Linked DNA regions of Homo sapiens. The protein of the gene in region 1 purifies or fractionates together with the protein of each later gene. This does not show direct contact. Each region holds a gene or a part of one and is shown in the gene's direction. Other genes may lie near its edges.

Region 1 (3,500 bases):
TGGCCATTGGGATACTGTGTTGCAGGCTATACAGTCTCTGAAATTGCCAGACAAAACCCTCATTGACCTCTATGAACAGGTAAGAGTGGTGGTGATGCTGATCCCCATGGGTTGGTTCGTTGTGGGCCAGCTCCCCAACTAAAAAGCGTCAGTGAGCATTCCTTCAAGCACGGTAGGGCTGCATCAGCCCATACAACAATGGCAAGGCTTGACATTGTATTTTTTCTCCCTTCTTGGAAAATCCAGGATTTCCCAAATTAAAATTCTTTCCTTTTTTTGAGACTGGATCTTGTTCTGTTACCCACTCTGGAGTGCAGTGGCAAGATCACAGCTTGCTGCATCCTCCATTTCCAGGATCAATCCTTCCTCCTGCCTCAGCCTCCTGAGTAGCTAGGAACACAGGCACGCACCACCACGCCTGCCTAATTTTTGCATTTTTCTGTAGAGACAGGATCTCACCATAATACCCAGGGTGGTCTCAAACTCCTGGGCTCAAGCAGTTCGCCAGCCTTGACTTTCCAAAGGGCTGGGATTACAGGCACGAGAGAGCCTCAACTTTCTAATCACATAGTTAGTCTTTCTGATAACTAGCTCCTACCTATCCTGAGCCATTTCCTTTGCACAAACCCAGGTGTGATTCAAGGGGCCCAGGAGTAACAAAGATACCCCTATCACTGGTCAAATTCCAAGAAGCTCCAAGCCAAGAACCTAGGACAAAGATCAGACAAATTTGTGATTATAAAACAGCAGAGTAGACTTTCTGGAAATAAGATTGTAATTTGAAGTAAAAGTAGTGAAATTGGTTTTTGGTTTTTGTTTACGGGTTTTTTTTTTTGTTTTTTTTTTGAGACAGAGTCTCACTGTGTTACCCAGGCTGGAGTGCAGTGGTGCGATCTCTGCTCACTGCAACCTCCATCTCCGGGGTTCAAGCGATTCTCCTGCCTCAGCCTCCCGAGTAGCTGGGATTACAGGCGTGCATCACCACGCCCAGCTAAGTTTTGTGTTTAGTAGAGACGGGGTTTCACCACATTGGCCAGGCTGGTCTCCAACTCCTGACCTCAAGTGATCCACCTGCCTCAGCCTCCCAAATGCTGGGATTACAGGTGTGAGCTGCCGTGTCTGGGCAGTTTGTTTCTTTACAATCCGTATGAGTTCAATAATTCCCAAAGAAAATTTTGGTAACTGGAGAAAGGTTTCTCTGGAGCCCATGGGTATATTCCCATCTTTAGCTTTCTTTGGCATCTACATTCTGAGCAAGAAGCCTGAGAGGAGGGGAGATTGGTAGATAAAAATGAAGGATAGAGTTTGAAGGATTGAAATTATTATTTATTTATTTATTGAGACAGATCTCGCTCTGTCGCCCAGGCCAGAGTACAGTAGCATGAGCTTGGCTCACTGCACTCTCCGCCTCTCGGGTTCAAGCAATTCTCCTGCCTCAGCCTCCCAAGTAGCTGGAATTACAGGCATATACCACCACACCCAGCTAATTTTTTTTGTATTTTTAGTAGAGAGTCTGTTTCACCACGTTGGCCAGGCTGGTTTCGAACTGCTGACCTCAAGTGATCCGCCCATCTTGGCCTCCCACAGTGTTAGGATTATAGGCATGAGCCACCAAGCCCACCAAGTCCACCTGAAATTGCTAGTGAAAATGGAAAGGGGCACTTCCTGGTATTGGAAATCCTTTGACAGGCCATATCTGTGTTAGATATTTTACCGAAAAATATTAATAAGACGGTGTGTTGAAACATCTGGGGTTTTTTTTGTTTTTTTTTAATTGTCCAGGTTGTTCTGGAATTGATAGAGCTCCGTGAATTGGGTGCTGCCAGGTCACTTTTGAGACAGACTGATCCCATGATCATGTTAAAACAAACACAGCCAGAGCGATATATTCATCTGGAGAACCTTTTGGCCAGGTCTTACTTTGATCCTCGTGAGGTATGACTGTGGTAATGAAAAGGAACTTTTTGTTAACTTTGGAAATGAAATAACATGATCTTTTTTTTTTTTTTTTACCATTTTATTGTATACTCTTTGTGATTTTGATTTAATTTTTGAGAATGATGCTTCTCTGTTTATATATGTTGGCTGAAATTTGCGTATGTTAAAGAGAATAATTTTGTTCAGTTTTCTGATTATTTGAGTCTTCTATACACCTCAGTTTAGAGGATTGCGTGTTGGTTAGTAAAAAAAGCAGAACATTTTATTCTGATGTCATTTCCACATTAGCCCTCCCCGAAGTGCTGCCTGACTGCTGGTATGTTCACTGATCATTTGTGTGTCTTGCCCCTAACAATTGTAGTTTCCTTCTAGCCTTTTTAGTCCCTAGAAGCTTTTGTTTCTTCGCGGATTATGCTTACCAGTAGAGCATGATGATAGTCTTTTATTCTTCCAAAACGTTATTATCTGTATAGTTTCATTCTTCCTAAACCTTATTATCTGTATGGTTTCATTCTTCCTGCCCACCCCCCCAGCCTTTTACTAGAGGTTTGTCAAAATAGGAGGAAAAAGGATTAAAAAAAATTTTTTATGGGTACATAGTAGGTGTATATATTTATGGGGTACATGAGATATTTTGATATAGGCATGCAGTGCATAATGAGGGTAAATGGAGTATCCATCACCTCAAGCATGTATCCTTTGTGTTACAAACAATTCAATTCTTTCAGTTATTTTAAAATGTATAATTATTATTGGCTATAGTCACCCTGTTGTGCTATCAAATACTATTTCTTATTTATTCTTTATATTTTTTGTATCTATTAACCATCCCCACTTTCCTTCTTACCCCCGCCACCTCCACCCTTCCCAGCCTCTGACAACCATCCTTCTACTCTCTATCTCCATGTTTTAATTTTTAGTTCCTGCAAATAAATGAGAACATGCAAAGTCTGTCTTTCTGTGCCTGGCTTATTTCGCTTACCATAATGAGCTCTAGTTACATGCATGTTGTTGCAAATGACAGGATTTCATTCTTTTATATGTCCAGCTAGTACACCATTGTGTACATGTACCTCATTTTCTTTATTTATCTGTTAATGGTCACTTATCGTTGCTTCCAAATCTTGCCTATTGTGAACACTGCTGTAATAAACATGGGAGTGCAGATATCTCTTTGATATACTGATTTCCTTTTGGGTGTGTACCTAGCAGTGGGATTGCTGGATCATATGGTACCTCCATGTTTAATTTTTTGAGGAATCTCCAAACTATTCTCCATAGTGGTTGTACTAATTTACATTCCCACTAATAGTGTACGAGGGTTCCTTTTTCTCCACTTACTCACCAGCATTTGTTATTTCCTGTCTTTTTGTATAAAAGCCATTTTAACTGGAGTGAGATGATATCTCATTGTAGTTTGATTTGCATTTCTCTAATGATCAGTTGTGTTGAGCACCTTTAAATAAACCTGTTTGCCTTGTGTGTGTCTTTTTTTGAGAAATGTCTATTCAGATCTTTCACCCATTTTTAACATTGGATTATCAGATTTTTTTCCCGTAGAG
Region 2 (3,500 bases), on another chromosome or scaffold:
TTGTCACATTAATTAAATTGGCAATCTGAAATATCTAAAGGATAAAATATTTTCTAAATAGTTTGGGTGTTTAAATAGAAGCATCCATTGTTGAAATCTAAATGATAACAAATCTTCAATTGATTTATATAGTGGTGATTTAAAAATAGAATCATTTCTCATCTGTTGATGCCTAAGGGAAACATTGACATTGTGCCTTTATGATATTGAACAGATGAGTCATGTAATTTTCAGTTACTTAGACAAATACTGCTTCTTTGATGATATATAAATGCCTTTTTTAAAATACTTATTTACATGGAACATATCAAATTTCAGAGTCTTATTTCAAATTAAGTAGGCACGATAATTTTTCAATCTATGATTTCTAAAAATTGAAGTTTAAAGTTCTGCTCAAATAAGCCAGATATGAAAATATTATTTTTTTGATTAAGTAATAAGATAATAGTCTTACAATTCTGGTGACTGTAAATTTTGTTCAAAGAGTTTACCTTTATTTGAGATTTATTCATTATACAAAGATGATGCCATGTTATTTCAGCTTATTAAAGTCCCACTCTTTTACCTTGAGTGAAGTTTTTGAATTTGAAATTTTTCATATTATCATTAAAATGTAGTATATCACTATTTTCATCTCTACTAATTTTAAGATTCTATTTTGGTCTTGCTAATTTTAACTCCTGAGTATGAGAGGGTGGTGTGTGTGTGTGTGTGTGTGTGTGTGTGTGTGTGTGTGTGTATGTGTATGTGTATGTGTGTATGTGTGTTTAAAGTTCAATTCACTCAGAGAAGGCAAGGAAGAAACATGACAGGAGACCACTTACTCACGGTACAGAATCTAGTAGGGAGGCAATTTTCTTTTTGGCCTATGGTGACCTTTTTTGACTATGTTCCTTACACCAGAGACAGTGTACTGAATGCCTCTATTTCACCCTGTTTAGCAGAGTGCAACAGTGTTCTTTAACTTACTTTTGGTGGGAGGAGAAGTTATAGCTGAAATTTGAGAAGGGCGTGAAAAGTTGTAAGAGGCACAAGGAAGAGGGGTAGGAACTTCCTTCAAATGTGATTTTAATAACTAGTCAAGTGTGTCCAACTGTAGAAAATCACCAAGTGACAATCTGTCTACCTGACAGTGATCACAATGAATTACAAGACTTTTGAATAGCTATACAGATTAGAATAAAGCAGGACCAAATAAAATATCTTTTGTTGGTAAAACTTTTGACTTAGAGCTAAGAAACTTTAAAAAAAATTCTCTTTTGCTTTGATGTAGAAAGTTTAAATTACAGAATGTGTAAAGTGTTTTATAAGCTTTTTGTGAAAGAAGCATTATTCTAAAAGCTTTATTTGAACATCTGTTGAAGAATGGGTGGTGGTTTGTAAATCAGTTTGCTATATATTATTATATAGTTTCCATATATGTAAGATGACTGTATCTTAATTAATAGTCCTATCATTAAAATCAGAACTTCAGTGATCTTGAAAATTTCCAAACTAAATAATCGTTTTAGACAATAATATCATCTGATGGAGGAAAAAATAGAAAACAATTCCAAAGAAGTTTGTAAGTAGTTTGTGAAATCAACTGTTTAAAAAAACCAACCATGTGCAGTAATGCAGCATATTTTAAAATAAGATAATTGAGTCTGTGCTATTACTGGTTTACTATTACTGCTGTCAATTTTTTAAAATCATCTTATGGTTGGTTTGGCAAAAAATTTAAAATTTAAACTTCAAGTAGAAGATTCTACAGTTACTGTCTTGAAAAACTATATATACTACCTATTTTAAGTAAGGATGAGATTTTATAAGTTTTATTTTCTATTAAATAGATTTTCTAATAAATAGATTTTGTGAGCTATTTTCTGTAGCTCTTATGTTTTTATTATAATATCATACATCTTTTAAATATGACCTTATAGTATTTTACAAGGACATAATTGGAACCTCACAACACATAACTGAATAGAAAAGACAAGATATATAATAGCTTCAAAAATTTGTGTTACCCATGCTTGTCAATGGTTATTGTTTATCCCTCTCTATATTTTCTCATGGTTAGCTTATTCCATTAGACATAATATAAATATCAAACGTTTTCTTAATTATAACCACAGAAATGTTTGCCAGGCTAGAAAGAAATGAGACAGGAAAACATGTTTTACAAATTTAAAAAAAAAAAAGCCTTAATAGCTCAACAAGCTGTATTTTTTAACTTTGGAACCTTGCTTATTTCCTGATTATAGTTTTTAATAAAGAGAATTTTTATGGTAGGTTGAAAAATGAAAGAAATTTTAAGATTAAAGACTTGCTTCCATACATTATAGTAAGACAGTGGCTTATTTTGCTACATGATTTTTCTGGCCTCCTGTGAGAAACAAAGTGAATAAAATTCAAGGTACACAAGTAGATGTTATGTCTTTATAATAATGTAGGTATGGATGGTTTTGTAATGTTAAATCAGATTTATTCTTTTTTAACTGCTTATTCTTTTTAATTGTTCAGACAAATAAAAAATGCTCTTGAAAGGGCCATTGTAAAGAAAAATATACAAAAAAATGTAGTTTGAATTGTAAACTTTGATTTCAGAGGTTGTTTTCTCAAAACAGATAGTATAAATATTAATATAATTTGAAAGTTTACTTGAAAATAAATTATTTGCTAATTTATTTCAGTCATTTTTGGGTTCTGAGATATCTGAATTAGTTTTTTAATTTAAGCTTTATAATCTTTATGTTGCAATTATATTTTTTGTTCTTATAAATAATAAAAGCTTATTTATATACACAATAAAGGCAAACAATTTTAAATGACTTTCTTTTGAAAAAAATAAAATCATTATCTTGCCTAAAGGAGTATTTTAATGAATATGCAACTATATAAAAATTGCTTAGACTGAAATTTTAAGAACTTTTTTGAAAATTGAAATGGATTATAAGATTTAAATTATGCTACCTTCTTTCATTTCAAAACAGGAAGGATATGGAGTAATAGTACTAAATCCCAATGAAAACTATATTGAAGTAGAAAAGCCGAAGATACACGTACAGTCATCATCTGATAGTTCAGATGAACCAGCAGAAAAACGGGAAAGAAAAGATAAAGTTTCTAAAGAAACAAAGAAGCGACGTGATTTCTATGAGAAGTATCGTAACCCCCAAAGAGAAAAAGAAATGATGCAATTGTATATCAGAGTGAGTGAGATCACTACTTTCCTTTACTATTTTCTTTACCTTGTATATATTTTATTATATGTAGATTGTTTTGTTTTTCTTCAAGAATATTAATTTTTTTATTTGTCATCATTTATTTCCCATAGTCGTCTACTTGGATTAAATGGGTTTTTAAATTCAGAATTACAAAACGCATCATTCTTATTTCAGTGTGACATTTTATAGAAGTCACAAATGCAAATTCTGTTTCCTTTTGTGTCATATACTACCTCAAGAAAAATTTTCTAAAATAATTTTATTGTGATGGATGCAGAAGGCAGAAAACTT

What was found.
Region 2: the proteins of SMU1 (region 1) and ARB2A fractionate together in Homo sapiens (co-fractionation; one large-scale study listed by BioGRID). This does not show direct contact.

What each region holds. Positions count from the first base shown.
Region 1 is NC_000009.12:33,070,175-33,073,674, reverse strand, and holds part of SMU1 (WD40 repeat-containing protein SMU1), read left to right. Parts: coding exon 1-79; intron 80-1,782; coding exon 1,783-1,935; intron 1,936-3,500. UniProt on the Homo sapiens protein: Involved in pre-mRNA splicing as a component of the spliceosome. Regulates alternative splicing of the HSPG2 pre-mRNA. Required for normal accumulation of IK.
Region 2 is NC_000005.10:93,881,164-93,884,663, reverse strand, and holds part of ARB2A (cotranscriptional regulator ARB2A isoform 1 precursor), read left to right. Parts: intron 1-2,975; coding exon 2,976-3,194; intron 3,195-3,500. UniProt on the Homo sapiens protein: Plays a role in the regulation of alternative splicing, by interacting with AGO2 and CHD7. Seems to be required for stabilizing protein-protein interactions at the chromatin-spliceosome interface. May have hydrolase activity.